Linked DNA regions of Homo sapiens: region 2 is linked to region 1. Evidence: fine-mapped expression QTL. Tissue or cell type: aorta. Region 1 holds a variant in brackets; the other region holds the start of a gene. All regions are shown on one strand. Distances are from middle to middle.

Evidence for each region. PIP is the estimated chance that this variant, and not a neighbour inherited with it, causes the effect.
Region 2: OXTR starts here. The variant in region 1 is fine-mapped to the expression of OXTR in aorta (GTEx, PIP above 0.99). The same link has a PIP of 0.9 or more in fibroblasts and tibial artery.

Annotation. Positions count from the first base shown.
Region 1 is chr3:8,848,103-8,856,297 of GRCh38, reverse strand. It overlaps LOC107984112 (a long non-coding RNA gene), which reads left to right. Exons shown (of 2, transcript XR_007095814.1): 1 at 1-3,419. Among named protein-coding and RNA genes, the nearest start is that of OXTR, 83 kb to the right of the region's middle. The variant T/G (reference allele first, on the strand shown) is at 4,436.
Region 2 is chr3:8,766,480-8,774,649 of GRCh38, reverse strand. It overlaps OXTR (oxytocin receptor), which reads left to right and starts at 5,037. Exons shown (of 4, transcript NM_000916.4): 1 at 5,037-5,419; 2 at 6,059-6,154; 3 at 6,321-7,384. The coding sequence starts at 6,463. RefSeq lists enhancers at 4,873-4,922, 5,570-6,241, 6,914-7,585 and a silencer at 6,533-6,592.

The DNA of each region.
Region 1 (8,195 bases):
GTTTCTGCCAGTCTGAGGTGAGCAGTGGGCATGGGGCTGGGGAGGGAGGGGCCAAGGCGTGCATCTGCGTTACTGCAGACGTCCACGTTACTGCATGTGTCCACATTACTGCAGGTGCAGGTTGGAGCCCCCACCCAGACCCGCACCAGCTGCTGCCATCTCTCATGCTCAGTCCCAGGACAGTTATTCTCAGCTTTCCCGGACACCTCCCTGTTCCCACTAGATGCAACAGCACAGCTAGTTCCTGCTGCATGGTGCTCCCAGCTTCTGAGTCTTTAAAGATTTGTTTTTAGAGATGAGGTCTTGCCATGTTGCCCAGGCTAGTCTTGAACTCCTGGCTTCCAGTCACTGGGGTCAGGCCCTGCAGGAAATTGGTACTGCTCGGATGGGAGGCAGGAATTGGTACAGCTAGGATGGGGCAGGCAAGGCAAGTCCCATTCGATAGACTGTGGCCCACCGAGTGTATGCTCTGCACTTGGAATCCGGAATGATGAGGGGGCTAAGGACCATGACATAAACTGGAAATATTTAACCTAGAAAGACTGTTCTTAGAGACATTGTTATGTTTGAGTAATAAAAGCTAGTACTTACTGGGCTCTAAGTTTGTGCCAGGCATAGTGCTAAGTGTATTATGTGCTTAAAAAAATTCTCAAAGGCCCCATTTTACAGATGTGGAAATCGAAGCACAGGGAAGTGGAAAATCACGGTTACTCTACCACAGTATGAATTCCCATGGGCAGGATCCCCCAATGGATGCTGAAGTGAATGGGCAGAGCTAACTCAGAGAGCTAGGGGTGGCAGGGCTAACATCTGAGCTCAGGTTTTTCTGATTCCAATTTTTTAACTGCCACATGTGGGGAATTAGATTTTTTTTTCTTTTTTTACTACACCTCATGGTAAAATTTGGATCCATAGGTGGCAGCTACAGGGAGATGTATTTCACCTCAGTATAAACAATATCTTTCTATTTCCACCATTCAAAAATGGAGTAGGCAGGCAGCTTTAACAGGTAGTGAGTTCACCATCAATGGTGGCAAACAAACTGAGCATGTATCGGGGACACTACAGAGGGATCCAGCACTGATTAGACAATCAGGATTGCAGAGTGACCTTTTTGGGGTCATTTAGAAAATGTGTGAGTGGAAGAAGGGAGGAAGGTACCAGCCAAGGGAGACTCTAAAATCTGCGAGCAGAATGGCAAACTGTGATTGCTGAAACGTTATGGCCACAGCCAAGGACTCTAGGCACTGCCAGAGATGGGGGGCTGTAAGGAGGCAGCATGTGACAGGGTGAAGAGTGGGCAGTTTTGGGATCAAGATCCCAAGGGGCACAACGTCTTTGTAAATCCTCCACAAAAGGCCTTCCACAGAAACTTTGTACTTCAAAATTCCAGCCCTGGTAGGTCATTCCCTTGGCTTCAGACTTTTTTCTTTGTTGAGATGGAAGTTGATTGGGGCTGAGTCAACTTAGCTAAGTGGGAGCTACATTTCCCACAGTTGCCTTCCCAATATGCTTCCATTTAGGGTTGGCTATAAAGAGGAATATACATGAGATTCGGAAGGTGAAATGAAGAAACAGCAATTTTCAAGCTCTGAAGCCCAGCGTAAGATGCCAAACACTGTGACTGGTCATGGCTGTTGCGGTCCTGCTGCCTGGCCTCATTGACATGGGCAGCACCCAAGCCCATATCTCCTGCAGCTCCCTCCAGCCCTGCTACTCAGACTTCACCTAGTCCTGGGCCAGATGCGAGCGCAGCTCCGTGGTGAAGTGCTCCAGTGTCTCTTGTATCGTCCAGGTTGGATGTAGTTCAAGACAGCTGTGGCTCCAGCCAGTGGGCAGCTTGTGGGCTCAGCCACAATTGTCCTCTCGGGTTGCAGGGCACCTATTGGGTCCCTGTTTGTCTTACTCTCCTCCACCTCACACCTTGATTTCCCTCCTGATTGCCAGCCTGGCCAACCTGTAATGCCTACAGGCCCAACACCAGAAGTAAGGACCACAGTTTTGCCCAGACTTCTCTTCTTTACATTTGTTTTTAGAGATGAGGTCTTGCCATGTTGCCCAGGGTAGTTTTGAACTCCTGGCCTCAAGTGATTCTCCCACTGAAGCCTCCCCTACATAGTCTTCTTAACCGGGTCTTACAATTGCATAAGGCCTAATCCTTTTGTCAAATGCCTTATTCTGTATCACTCATAACAGTTCCGCTTCTCTGACTGAACTCTTTCCTAACTCACACGTAGCTGTCTTCCTCCACACACTGCCAATCTTATCATTCTATTCTACCCTGGCATGTTACTGACTTTTATTAGTGCCTTGCCATTACCTAGAAAATCAAGTCCACATCCCTAAGGGTGGCATTCAAAGCCCTCCATCAGCTTTACCAAAGCCTATCCTCTTAGCTGCTACACTGAACTGCTTTCCAGAAGGCCTGGGAATGAATCTGCCTCTGCCTCCTATTAGCTATGAAGCCTCGGGCTAGTCAATTTCCACTGAACGTCAGTTTTCACATCTATAAAATGGCAAAACCATCCTGCAAGACTGATGTTCTGCCCACACCACAGTTGTTTACTGCCTGTGTGTTCTTTGATGGGTTGGTTCCCATTTCTTGCCAGTTCTTGGATATTTTGAATAGCACCCCGAATTATTTTTCTGTTGCTGCATAACAAATTGCCACAAACACAGTGGTTTCACAATCCTTTATTATTTCGCAGTTTCTATAGTTCAGAGTCTGGGCACAGCAGAGCTGGATTGCCCGTTCAGGGTCTCACAAAGCAACATCAAGGCGTTGGCTGGGGCCCCATGGTGATCTAGAGGATAGGGTCCTCCTCTGAGCTCATTCGGGATGTGGGCAGAATTCAGTTCCTTTTGTCTATGGGGCAGAGTCCCTGTATTCTTGCTGGCTCTCAGCTGGAGGTTGATCTCAGCCCCTAGAGGCCATGCTCAAGTCCTAGCCATGTGGGCCTCTTCCAGCACGGCTACTCACATCTGCAAAGCCAGCAGGAGAATCTCTCTCCAGCCTGCTAGGACAGAGTCTTACATAACACAACCCAGTCAGGGAAGTGACTCCCCATCATGTTCCCAGGGCCTGACCGCTGGGGAGGACCCAATGGGAGGAGATTTTACAGAGCATGTGCATCGGGAGCTGGGAATCTTGGGGCTACCTTAGAATTCTGTCCAGCACAAACCCCGTTACCTCTCAGCACTGTGAGTTGAAAAAAAAACAAAAGGGCTTAGCATAGGGCCTGGCCTGCTGTTTGTCTTTTATATATATTCATTAAATCTCTTTCTCTGACTTATTCATGATTACTGGAGGGCAAAGGATCCCACCTTGTTGTTTTCTCTGTATCTCCAGCACCTGGCATATGGCACGCCCAGGACCCATGGTCCCCTGCGAGTGGAAGGATAGATACAAATGGAGACAGGTAAGGGGCTTCAGGAGGAGCCAAGGAGCAGGGTGGGGGCTGGAGGGCAGGCTCAGATATAAGCAGGCAGAGGGTATCTGTGGTGACGGAAGGCACGTTTTGCCTCCCTCCGCTGTCTCAGATCCCATGCTATGTCACCCTCAGCCTTGGTTGCTGCTGCTACTAACAAATGAGCTGTTCATGCCACCCCCACAAGAGTCTCTGTAGAGGATCCTGGAAGAGCTGCTCCAGAAAGGAAGGGAGGCACCGGGCACCTGCCCAATTAGCTTGGTGACCTCTCTGGTGCAGAGGCTGTCTTCTCTCATCCTGCTCTTTCCCCCAGAGGGGCCCAGTGGGACAGTCCTGAAAATGCAATGTAGAAATCCCAGCTGAGGTGCCCTCCAGAATCCAGGGCTCCAGCTGTGAATACTTCAGCAAGAAGGAGCCTTGTGCCAGGGAAGGTGGCGGAGGGCGGGGTGGAAGAATTGACAGGGCTGGTGTGAGGAATTAGGGCGCTTGGATAACCAGGTGCAAAGGGAGTTCTGCACCCATGCCTTTGCTTATGTCCTTCCCCCAGAGCCCAGTCCTTGCCCACCTCCTTCATGGTGCTTTCCTCCAACACCCCTGAATGAAAGCAGCTGGCTCTTGTTGTTCATGGGCAGTGGGTTTCAGTGAAGGTCTCTGGAGCAGAGTTCAGGACCCCCTAGGTCCTACTTTGTCTAGTAACATGCTATGCAGATGGGGCATGTCAGTTACTTCCTCTAGGAATCAAATTTTTGTACCCTTTAAATGAAGGATCTGGAGCCCAGGACCTCTAGGGTGTCTGTCAGTTTCACATTTGGAAACGCTTCAATTCCAAAGACCTATCTTATCTTATTCTGGTATCTTGCTTTTGTCCCTTCTCCTGCTGGCCTTGAGCTAGGGCTGTGCATGGCCTCGAGCTAGGGCTGTGCATGGCCTCAGTGCTTCCATGTGGGCTGAATTTCATACCACAGATGTTTGCTGAATGAACATCATGCCTGGGACTACTGGTTCTA[T/G]TTTTAGGAGCGTGCTGGAATTTCTAACCAGACTGTGAGCTTCCTGAGGTTAGGGTTTGGAGTGTGCCGCACCTCAGAACCCAGAGGAGACTGAGAAAGGACCCAGGGAACACTGGGGATGAAAACTTTCTATACTCTCTCCATCTACATAACAAACAGAACTCATTCCTGTATTTTGGAAAACACAGACATCTGCACTTTGTCCCCAGAGATCCTGATTTAATTGGCCTATGGTTGGACCTGGGAGGTGATGTTATCCGGAAGCTACCCTAGATGATTGAGCTGGGGTGAGAAGCCCTGGGCTCAGTTAATACCTGAGAGCAGTTCCACCTCTGCCATTCTGTGACTCCTGCACTCCCCATACGTGCTGTTGGTACAGGGCAGAGGAGCCCTATGTGTGAAAACTACTTAGGGCTTTACATTTTTTACTGGTAATAGGAGTTGTGAATCTTCTTGATGAAGCTCATATTTTATGCTTGGTTCTTTGTAGACATTCTCTTTTAATTGAGTCTTCATAGCAACTCTGTGAGATCAATTTCATGATTGCCATTTTAGAGATGAGGACTCGGGAGCTCAGAGAGGGGACTTGATCTGCACAAGGTCACACAACGAGCTAATCAGTGGCTGAGCTGGGATTTGACCCCATATCTGTCTGACTTCAAACTCCATGCTCTTTTCAAACTGGAAAGCTCAAGATAAGTAGCCATTTAGGTAGTTTTTTGGAAATATGCAATTTGGAGCTACTTTAGTACCTAACCAGGGAAAGGGAAGTCTCCCTCTTTTCTGTTTTGGTTATACATTATCCCTAAAGCATCTGGTTCTGCTGCCTTTGACAAAGATGCTCTCTTCTTGAACCAAACTTTAGTCCGGCTCCTCTGAACCTGCTTCTCAACTAGGCCTGGACATTTGTGCTTTTGCGTTTGTCTCTATATTGCCTTGAATGGTTAAAAAAAAGCGCGGCTGGGCGTGGTGGCTCATGCCTGTAATCCCAGCACTTTGGGAGGCTGAGGTGGGCAGATCACGAGGTCAGGAGTTTGAGACCAGCTTGAGCCACATGGTGAAACCCCATCTCTACTAAAAATAACAAATTAGCCAGGTGTGGTGGCATGTGCCTGTAATATCAGATACTCAGGAGGCTGAGGCAGGAGAATCGCTTGAACCCAGGAGGCAGAGGTTGCAGTGAGCCGAGGCCACAGCACTCCAGCCTGGGCGACAGAGCAAGACTCTGTCTCAAAAAGAAAGAAAGAGAAAGAAAGAAAGAGAAGGAAGGAAGAAAGGAAGGAAGGAAGGGAGGGAGGGAGGGAGGGAAAGTGTGGCATATATGCACAATGGAATATACTATTCAGGCTTAAGAGAGAAGGAAATCAATCCTGTTGTTTTCAACAGCATGGATGAACCTGGAAGACACTATGCTAAGTGAAATAAGCCAGTCACAGAAACACAAATACTGCAAGACCCTGTTTATATGTGGAACCTAGAAAAGTTGAACTCATAAAAGCAGAGAGTAGAATATTGGTCACCAGAGGATGGAAGAGTGGGTGGTTGAGGAATGGGGAGATATTGATCAAGGGGTGTGCAGTTTCAGTGAGATAAGAGAAATGAGTTTTGCTGATCTATTACACAGAGTAGTGACTATAGTTAATAATAATGTATTGTGTATTTCAAAATTGCTACAAGAAGGCCAAGGCAGGAGGATTGCTTGAGGCCAGGAGTTTGAGACCAGCCTGGGCAACATAGCAAGACCCCCAGCTCTACCAAAAAAAAAAAAAAAAGTTAGCCAGGTATGGTGGCTCATGCCTGTAGTCCTAGCTACTCAGGGTGCTGAGGTGAGAGGATCACTTGAGCCCAGGAGTCTGAAGTTAGAGTGAGCTATGATCATGCCACTGCACTCCAGCATGGGTGACATAGTGAGACTGTCTCAAAAAAAAAAAAAAAAAGCTAAATGAGTAGATTTTAAGTAATTTCATAACCCAAAAAATGTTAAGTATGTGAGGTGATGGATATGTTAATTAGCTTGATGGAATCATTCTGCAATGTAAACATATATCAAAACATCAAGCTTGACCCACATAGGAAGACCCCATCTCTCCAAAGGAAAAAAAAAAATGCTGGTTGTGGTGGCACACGCCTGTGGTCCCAGCTACATGAGTGACTGAGGTGGGAGGATCACTGGGGCCCAAGAGATCGAGGCAGCAGTGAGCTGAGATTGTGCTGCTGCACTGCAGCTGGGTGACAGAGCGAGATCCTGTCTCAAAAAAAATAAATAAATAAAGATAAAAACACCACACTGTACCCTATAAATATATACAATTATTGTTTGTCAATTAAAAACAAAATTTCAGAAATCTTACTAAGTCAGTTTAGTGAGAATTCCTCATACTTGGTATCTGATCAAATTCTTTATCCTTCACCCTCAGAATCTGATCATCCTGGCCTACCTTCAGTGAGATGTTGAGTAGGTTTAGCCAGAATCCACTCCTACCCCTGATGTTTCCTTTCACTGACCGTCCCGCCACGACCACTCCTGGGCTGTAAATCCTCACTTGTCCTTGCTGTATTTGGAATGGAGTCCAGTTCTAAGGTTCAAGAGTTCTAAGAGTCCTGAGGGCTCATTTCTCCTATTGAAATAGTTCCTGAGTAAAATCTGCTTTTATGGCTCTAATTACTGTCTGGCTCTGGTTTTCTTTAACACTTATATTTGTAGAATGTTGACAAGCTAGAACGTTTTTGAATGAGTGAGGTCAGCCAGGAGACTGAGAGGATCCTGCTGTCACGTGGAGAACCATGGAGGTGTTACAGGCTTTAGTGCAGAAGCAGAGACAGGGAGGCAAGAGAGCTGTCTTCACATGCATCTGGCTGTGCAAGAAGAGAGAGGAGTTCTAAAGCAAAGGATCTGGGCATCCTGAATACTGTTAGGACAGCTCTTACTAAGTAGGAGTGAACAGGAACTGGTTTATACTTAGTTTTAAAGATGAAGTCAGTGCTAAGGAATGGGCCCCTTTCCTGCATGCTCTATATGTTTCTGGGACATTTGCTGTCGGATGACTCTGGCCCTCTTCCAGTGGGAGGACTGGGGGAAACGCTGCAGGGGATGCTCACTGTGGCCCACGTGACCCATGGTGCTGCTCAGTAACATGTCAAGGATGCAGATTCTTTCTGCGCATGCTTGAAACTAGAAGGCAAATGGAGTGCACAGCCTCCCACCTAGCTAGGCACACATTTCATGTTTCCTTAAACTGTTTGTTGGGTGTGCTAGATGGGTACTTGGATCTCACTTGGTGTAAAAAACTCTGGTGGTTTCAAGTAAACAAATACAGAGCACCTATCGGGTGCTAGCTAGAGAGCCAGATGCTGGGAACTGGAACAGGAACTGGGCATATTGGCTGTCCCATAGAAGCTCACAGTCTTGTTTTGGGAAGATGAAAAACACACAATTGACTAAAAGAGGAGACTGACAATGGCAAGTGTGACAGTGATATGGGACACAGGACAGGATGGGGTCCTGACTGAGGAAGGAGTTCCCAGTGAGCTTCACAGACGTGGTGATGTTCCCCAAGTAAGACCCACCTAACGAGAATTTCTTCTGCCTGCATAGACTGGAAAACAGGCTCATTAAAAAGAGACTGTCATTCAGTTGGGGTAAGTGCTAAAGATCTAGAAGTGGTAGAGGTAAGGGATGTGGTTTTTGTTGTAGGGGAAGGGAGTAATGTCAAGGTATGGGGTACCTAGGTGTAGCAATGCTTTCATTAATACCATATAT
Region 2 (8,170 bases), 82 kb after region 1:
GCCACGCTGACAAAACGTGGTAAAATCCAGATGCTAGCAAGCACTTACTGCTGCAGATTCAGAGCTCTCTCCAATAGGAAAGCACATTTTTCTCTCTTTCTCCACCCTGCATGGAACACAGGAATGAAAACAAAGGCTGGGAAGTCCAAAATCACACAGGCTAGAAGGAATCCGTGCAAGTTCTACCTATAAGCAGTGGCCTCCTGACACAGCATCCTGGCACGGCCTCAGGAACTTCCCAGGTCAGCCCATGTGCCCTGATGTGCCTGCATCCGCACAGAGCTATAAATGTAAGAAGATCAAGTGTGCCAGCAGCAGGCTGATTGCTACAATGTGTTCTCAGCCTTTATGCCTGAGAGCATGTCACTGACCCCCCTCCTGGAGCTAGGAGCCCAAGCAGAGGCTGAGAAGTTATTTGGGGGCAGGCTGGGGAGGCGGTGATGTTAGGGAGGGGGTAGGTTGGATGTGTTTATAGCTCATTTCCACTCTGACAATAGAGCAAAGGCCGCTTGGGCTTGGATCCATGTTGAAATAAATGTGCCAGGGCTGGAAAATTCCCAAGATGCTAAAACTCAGACCCAGTTCCCAGAGGCAGAAGTGGGTACAGGACAGGTCATTCTCTGGGCAGGATACCTTCCCCAGAGGGCCTGGTTCTGCCCATGGAGATGTTTATTTCTTCCCTCCTTTCCCCCTTCCTTTTATCCTTCTGTATTTAACAAATACCTGAAAGGTGCCTATTCTATAGTGACCTAGGCCTTTCGAAGTACAGGTATAGACAATATTGGCCCCACCTTTAAGATGCTTGGATACAAGAAAAAAACAACCCCATTAAAAAGTGGGCAAAGGACGTGAACAGACACTTCTCAAAAGAAGACATTTATGTGGCCAACAAACGTATGAAAGAAAGGTCAACATCACTGATCATTAGAGAAATGCAAATAAAAACCACAATAAGATACCATCTCATGCCAGTCAGAATGGTGATTATTAAGAAGTCAAGAAACAACTGATGCTGTAAAGGATCTGGAGAAATAGGAATGTTTTTACACTATTGGTGGTAATGCAAATTAGTTCAACCATTGTGGAAGATGGAGTGGCAATTCCTCAAAGACCTAGAACCAGAAAGACCATTTTACCCAGCAATCTCATTACTGGGTATATACCCAAAGGAATATAAATCATTCTATTGTAAAGATACCTGCACATGTATGTTCACTGCAGCACTATTCACTATAGCAAAGACATGAAATCAACCCAAATGCCCATCAATGATAGACTGGATAAAGAAAAAAATGTGAGATATATATATATATATCTATATCTATATAATCTATATATAGATATATATAGATTATATAGATATAGATATATATAGATTATATATATATAGATTATATAGATATATATAGATTATATAGATATAGATATATATAGATTATATATATATAGATATATATAGATTATATATATATAGATATATATAGATTATATATATATAGATATATATAGATATATATATATATAGATATATATAGATATATATGCCATGGAATACTATGCAGCCATAAAAAGGAACAAGATCATGTCCTTTGCAGGATGGATGGAGCTGGAAGCCATTAACCTCAGCAAACTAATACAGGAACAGAAAACCAAACACCACATGTTCTGACTTATAAGTGGGAGCTGAATGATGAGAACACAGACACAGGGAGGGGAACAATACACACTGGGGCCTGTCACGGGGGCAGAGGGAGGGAGAGCATCAGGAAAAATAGCTAATATGTGCTAAGCTTAATACCTAGGTGATGGGTTGATAGGTGCAGCAAACCACCATGGCACACATTTACCTATGTAACAAACCTGCACATACTGCACATGAACTCCAGAACTTAAAATAAAAAAAAAAAAAAGATGCCCGGATACTCAGACAGATGAAGACATTTGTAAATCAGGGATTGCTGAATCTCTGTCTGTGATGGTTCATTTTGTGTGTCAGCTTGGCTGGGCCATGGTGCCCAGATATTTGGTCAAATATTATTCGGGATGTTTCTGTGAGGGTATTTTTGGATGAGATTAACATCTGGAACAAAGTAGATCACCCACCATAACGTTGGTGGGCTTATCCAATCAGTTGAAGGTCTATATGGAACAAAAGACTGACCTCCCTGAGCAAGAAGGAATTCCGCAGCAGAGGACCTTTGGACTTGACCTGCAAAATCAGCTCTTCCCTGGGTCTCCAGCCTGTCAGCTCACTCTGAAGATTTTGGACTTGCCAGCCTCCATAACACATGAACCAATTCCTTAAATGAATCTCTTTCTCTACATATATACATCCCAATGGTTCTGTTTCTTTGGAAGACCGAAAGACACCCTGTAATGTCACATCTTTTGTCCATGCCTACAGCATCTCTTGCCTGGATCTCCAAGGCCTTCATAATGCCAGTATCTCCTTTCCCATCTTCCCTGTGGCTACCAGCATTCTCTCACCAAGCACAGATTTGAGTACGTTGTTTTGCTTGCAGTCCTTCCAGGCACCCCACCTTCCCCACCAATGCCTTCTAACCTCAGTCATCTTTACACTAGCACCTTCATGATTTTTGTTATATCAGACTTTCTCTTTGCTGACGTCAAAAGTAAGCAGAACTGAGAACTGAATTTCCTCCCTGTTATTCAGTATCACTCAATATTAAATTCACATTTAACACTATCAGAAAGTATTCCATCCCATATTTTGGGGAATGTTGGGTTACAGAATAAAACCCATTCTCCTTTACATGGCCTTGAAGTTCCTTTAGCATCAATAAGTACAGTTATCTCTTGGTATCCATGGGGGATTGGTTCCGGGAGCCTTCAAGGTACACAAATCCCTGATATAAAATGAAGCAGTATTTGCATATAACACGTGCATATCCTCTCACATACTTTAAGTCATCTCAAGATTACTTGTAACACCTAATGCAATGTCACTCGTCACTGCATTTGTGTGCATTCAGTGTTGTAGGTGGCACATGACAAATTCAATTTTTGCTTTTTGGAACTTTGAGGATTTTTTTTCCTGAATATTTTCAATCCATGATTGTTTGAATCCACTGAACTCACAGATACAGGGATATAGAGGGCCAACTGTATGTATTAAGTGCTGGCAATGTGCTAGGCACCAAGCAATTCATCTTTAGTCCTTCCTCCAAAACGCCAAAGTGATTCCCCTGCACCACTCTCTGAGAAGTATGCCTTTTTTCTTTGCTTCCTGGAGAACTCATTCTGGAGCTCTGAAATCCAGCTACCTCTTTGTAAAACGATCTCCCAAGTATTACCTCAGCCCCCAGCAGTCCTCACTTCTGTAACATCATTTATTGTTGTCACACTGCAAATATTAGGTTGATGCAAAAGTAATTGCAGTTTTTGCCATTATTTTTAATAGCAAAAACCACAATTACTTTTGCACCAATCTAATATGTGTTTTTCTCCCTGGCCGAAGCTCAAAGGTGAAGGAGCATGTCTTATTCATTGTTAGGAGTTTTCAAGGGGACCTCTCTATTTCCTGCCTGGTTTCTGCACACAATGAGAAATAAAACAAAAGACAGGAAATGGGGATCACACTATTACTGTTGTTGTTATTGTTGTTGTTTAGATTAAAACTAAGTTAGAGAATTTACCTTTTGCATGAGACTAAATAGCCCTGTTAGGTGAATCCAGAATTAGGCTGTCTCACGGGCTACGCGAGGACCACACAGGTAGGCAGGCTTCCCTACAAAGGGTAGAAGAGTCTGTCCTTGGTGAAGTGGCTCAGTAAACTTGCTCCCTAGAAAGCAGCTGTCTTCCAGGAGAAAGAAGGGCAGGCTTGGTTCTACAGGCCAGTGTTTTCCTTCTCACATTCACCGGTCAGGGGCTCATAGGGAAAAATCTGCCTTCATCCAGCCGTGGAGTGAGGCAGGGGTGTTTTACCTGCTAGGATTGAACCCTCAGATTGCACAGATTATACAGTTTCAGAAAACCAGAGGGACAGGACCTCAGACATTAGCTATCTTGACCAGTGCTCTCATTTTACATATGAGGAGACTGAGGCCCAAAGAGAAGGGGCTTGCCCAAGGTCACTTCATTCTCACCTGAGTCGTCTGTAACTTTAATCTGTAATTTTCGAGGCCGATAGGTACTATTGACTAATATTGATTAATACTGCCTGCCACCCCTTGGCAATGCTGTCAAGATTCCCAGCCCCATTCTGGAATGATTACTCAGCTAGAACCCTGGGATCCAGGTGCTGTAAGGTTGGCCCCTGGGATATCTCGGCATGGGGCTGTAATTGTGGATTAAGGAAACCCAGTCCTTGGCTAACTCAAGTCTCTCCACATAATAAAAAGACGGAGAAGTGAAATGTCAGGAGGAAATACACATTTAATGCATTTTAAAGAGCCCTGTTTATTTTTGAATCCTGGCCTTTTTTTCTGACTTAATTCTTGGCCACTGTAAATTACTTCAAAAAATGATTTTAGAATAGAGAAGGGGCAGGGAGGCTGAGAAGCTGTCTTTAACATTTTATCTTCCTTTGGCATCATTTAGAATTTTAATTCCGAAGCGCGACAAGGAGGCAGAAACGGCTCTTGGGCGCAGACAAGCAGAATCACTTTAAATGAAGACAGTGTTGTGCTTCAGAATTTCCTCTAAAACTACCGAAAAAATAACGCCTCTCCCAGCACTGCTTAGAATAGAGGCCATTTCTAATTCCTCATTAACGGGAATAGGAACAAAAGTATTCCAAAGCAAAGACTTATTTGAGTTCACTGCTAAAGCCGCTACATCAAGCTGGAGGTGTGGGGGGAGAGAAAAGCCTGAAAATTAACATCATTTTTGGGAAATAATCAGTTTAAATGCTTTTGTAACTTCATCACTATCTACCCGGGGAAGAACATTATTATTCAAGCCTCCTATGTGTCTCGGAGTCAAGAGCTTCTAAACCAAGAAAGGAAGAAACGGGCGGGTTATTGACGAGTTCCCTCCCTCTCGCAGTTTTAAACCACTGCAAAATAAACCCATTTGTTAAGGCTCTGGGACCAACGCTGGGCGAACCAGCTCCGCTCCGGAGGGGTCTGCGCGGCTGGCCTCGCCCGCCCCCTAGCGGACCCGTGCGATAGTGCAGCCTCAGCCCCAGCGCACAGCGCCGCATCCAGACGCTGTCCGCGCGCGCAGCCTGGGAGGCGCTCCTCGCTCGCCTCCTGTACCCATCCAGCGACCAGCCAGGCTGCGGCGAGGGGATTCCAACCGAGGCTCCAGTGAGAGACCTCAGCTTAGCATCACATTAGGTGCAGCCGGCAGGCCATCCCAACTCGGGCCGGGAGCGCACGCGTCACTGGGGCCGTCAGTCGCCGTGCAACTTCCCCGGGGGGAGTCAACTTTAGGTTCGCCTGCGGACTCGGTGCAGGTAGCTGGGTGCTAAGCAGGGGTGGACGGGATGGCTAGGGCCGGTGGAGCCATCGGGACCCGAGTGGAGGTGGTGGGGTGCCTCGCACTCCTTGTTCCTGGAGGAGCTCGGGGTGTTCCGAGAGATTGTAAAGTGACTTCTCGGGATTGAGACTCAGAGTCCTTGATTATCTGGGTCCAAAGCGCAAGTCAGGGGTTCCAGAACTTTCGAGGCTGCCGGGCTGGGGAGGAGCCCCGCGGGAGGTGTCTATGCCAGGGTCTGGGAACAGCGCTTGGGCATCTTGGGCTTTGAGGCAGGGGTTCCCCCAGCAGGGACTGCAGAACCGGGTTTCCACCGAAGCAGGTGCTGTGGAAGTTCAGGGAGTGACGGCCGACCGTCTTAGAAAAGGGGGTTAGACGGGGAAGGACCAGAGCTGGGGTTTCCCAGGCAAGTGGCTATTTGGGGATTTCCGGAGGAAGTACTTGAATTAATGTTTACTAGGAGAGGGGCTGGTTTGGGGGTCCCGCGGCAGGTGGATATGCTGAGGGTCGGAGCCTGGGGCGAGTAGGTAGTTTGGAGATTCCCTCGGGGAGGTGATTTGGTTTTAGATTCCCACTCCCGGAGGAACGTTGCTGATTTTGACCCTCCCTTCTCCCCCAGTGGAAGCCGCTGAACATCCCGAGGAACTGGCACGCTGGGGGCTCTGGGCTTGTGGCCGGTAGAGGATTCCCGCTCATTTGCAGTGGCTCAGAGGAGGTACCTCCAACGGGGATTTCTGGGGTGGCGGCTGAGCAACCCGAGGCCGGCGGTTGTGCCCTGTTGTTTCAGATGAGTTGGGTTCCTGGGAATGGGACAAGCACGCCCTACCCGCGTCGGAAGAGAAACGCGGCGGTCTCCTCACGGCCCTCCCGGTTTGTTTCAGGGTGGACCCAGCAGATCCGTCCGTGGAGTCTCCAGGAGTGGAGCCCCGGGCGCCCCTACACCCTCCGACACGCCGGATCCGGCCCAGCCGCGCCAAGCCGTAAAGGGCTCGAAGGCCGGGGCGCACCGCTGCCGCCAGGGTCATGGAGGGCGCGCTCGCAGCCAACTGGAGCGCCGAGGCAGCCAACGCCAGCGCCGCGCCGCCGGGGGCCGAGGGCAACCGCACCGCCGGACCCCCGCGGCGCAACGAGGCCCTGGCGCGCGTGGAGGTGGCGGTGCTGTGTCTCATCCTGCTCCTGGCGCTGAGCGGGAACGCGTGTGTGCTGCTGGCGCTGCGCACCACACGCCAGAAGCACTCGCGCCTCTTCTTCTTCATGAAGCACCTAAGCATCGCCGACCTGGTGGTGGCAGTGTTTCAGGTGCTGCCGCAGTTGCTGTGGGACATCACCTTCCGCTTCTACGGGCCCGACCTGCTGTGCCGCCTGGTCAAGTACTTGCAGGTGGTGGGCATGTTCGCCTCCACCTACCTGCTGCTGCTCATGTCCCTGGACCGCTGCCTGGCCATCTGCCAGCCGCTGCGCTCGCTGCGCCGCCGCACCGACCGCCTGGCAGTGCTCGCCACGTGGCTCGGCTGCCTGGTGGCCAGCGCGCCGCAGGTGCACATCTTCTCTCTGCGCGAGGTGGCTGACGGCGTCTTCGACTGCTGGGCCGTCTTCATCCAGCCCTGGGGACCCAAGGCCTACATCACATGGATCACGCTAGCTGTCTACATCGTGCCGGTCATCGTGCTCGCTGCCTGCTACGGCCTTATCAGCTTCAAGATCTGGCAGAACTTGCGGCTCAAGACCGCTGCAGCGGCGGCGGCCGAGGCGCCAGAGGGCGCGGCGGCTGGCGATGGGGGGCGCGTGGCCCTGGCGCGTGTCAGCAGCGTCAAGCTCATCTCCAAGGCCAAGATCCGCACGGTCAAGATGACTTTCATCATCGTGCTGGCCTTCATCGTGTGCTGGACGCCTTTCTTCTTCGTGCAGATGTGGAGCGTCTGGGATGCCAACGCGCCCAAGGAAGGTAGCCAGGGCTGGGAGACCCAGGAGGAGGGAGCCTGGTGGCTGGGGGAGGCCCTTATCTTGCTGCCTCAGAATGTCCAGGGGTCTGTGGACTTCCTGGGGGATAAGCGGGTTTGAAATCCCACAGAGTCACTGCTCTGTCATCCCTTGACCAAGTGACTTAGGGCAATTAACCTCCCTGAGCCTCCACTTTCTCTTCTGTAAGGTGGCAATAAGGATAAAAGTACCAACTGTCACCAGGCATAGGGGAATGCCACGAGAAAATGCAGTTAAAGTCCTTAGCACAGTCCTTGGGCTGCATATGGGCTGTATGGTTTACTGTGGTGGTGGAAACAGGTTCAAGGGACTCCATCTGCTTTCCCACGTGGTTAGGAGGAGGTGGTGGAGGTAAGTTTGGAACCCCTGGCCAAGCTCAAGCTCCTTCAACTTTAAGTTCACGTTAAGATGAACTTCCACTTTAAGTTCAAGAAATCCAGCTGAAGCCAAGAAGTCTGGTTTGGACAAGGACAGCCTTGCAGGAGTGGCAATTTGTCCAACCAAGCACCTAGTAGTTGAAGGGGGTGTTGGGGGGCAGAGGAGTCCAAGGGAGAGGTGAAGACAAATCCCTGAACTCCTCATCGAGTGGAGGTGATGAGTCTCCATGCAGAGAGGTGAGTACTGCAAGGAGTGGTGGGCAGGCTTAGGGAGGAGAGCGCCCAGGACTGAGACTTCACTTCCACTTGGAGGAAAGAGAAGAAAGCCTTGAGGGGGACATTCAAGTTTGAGGGGGAGGCTGGGTGATTTCTGT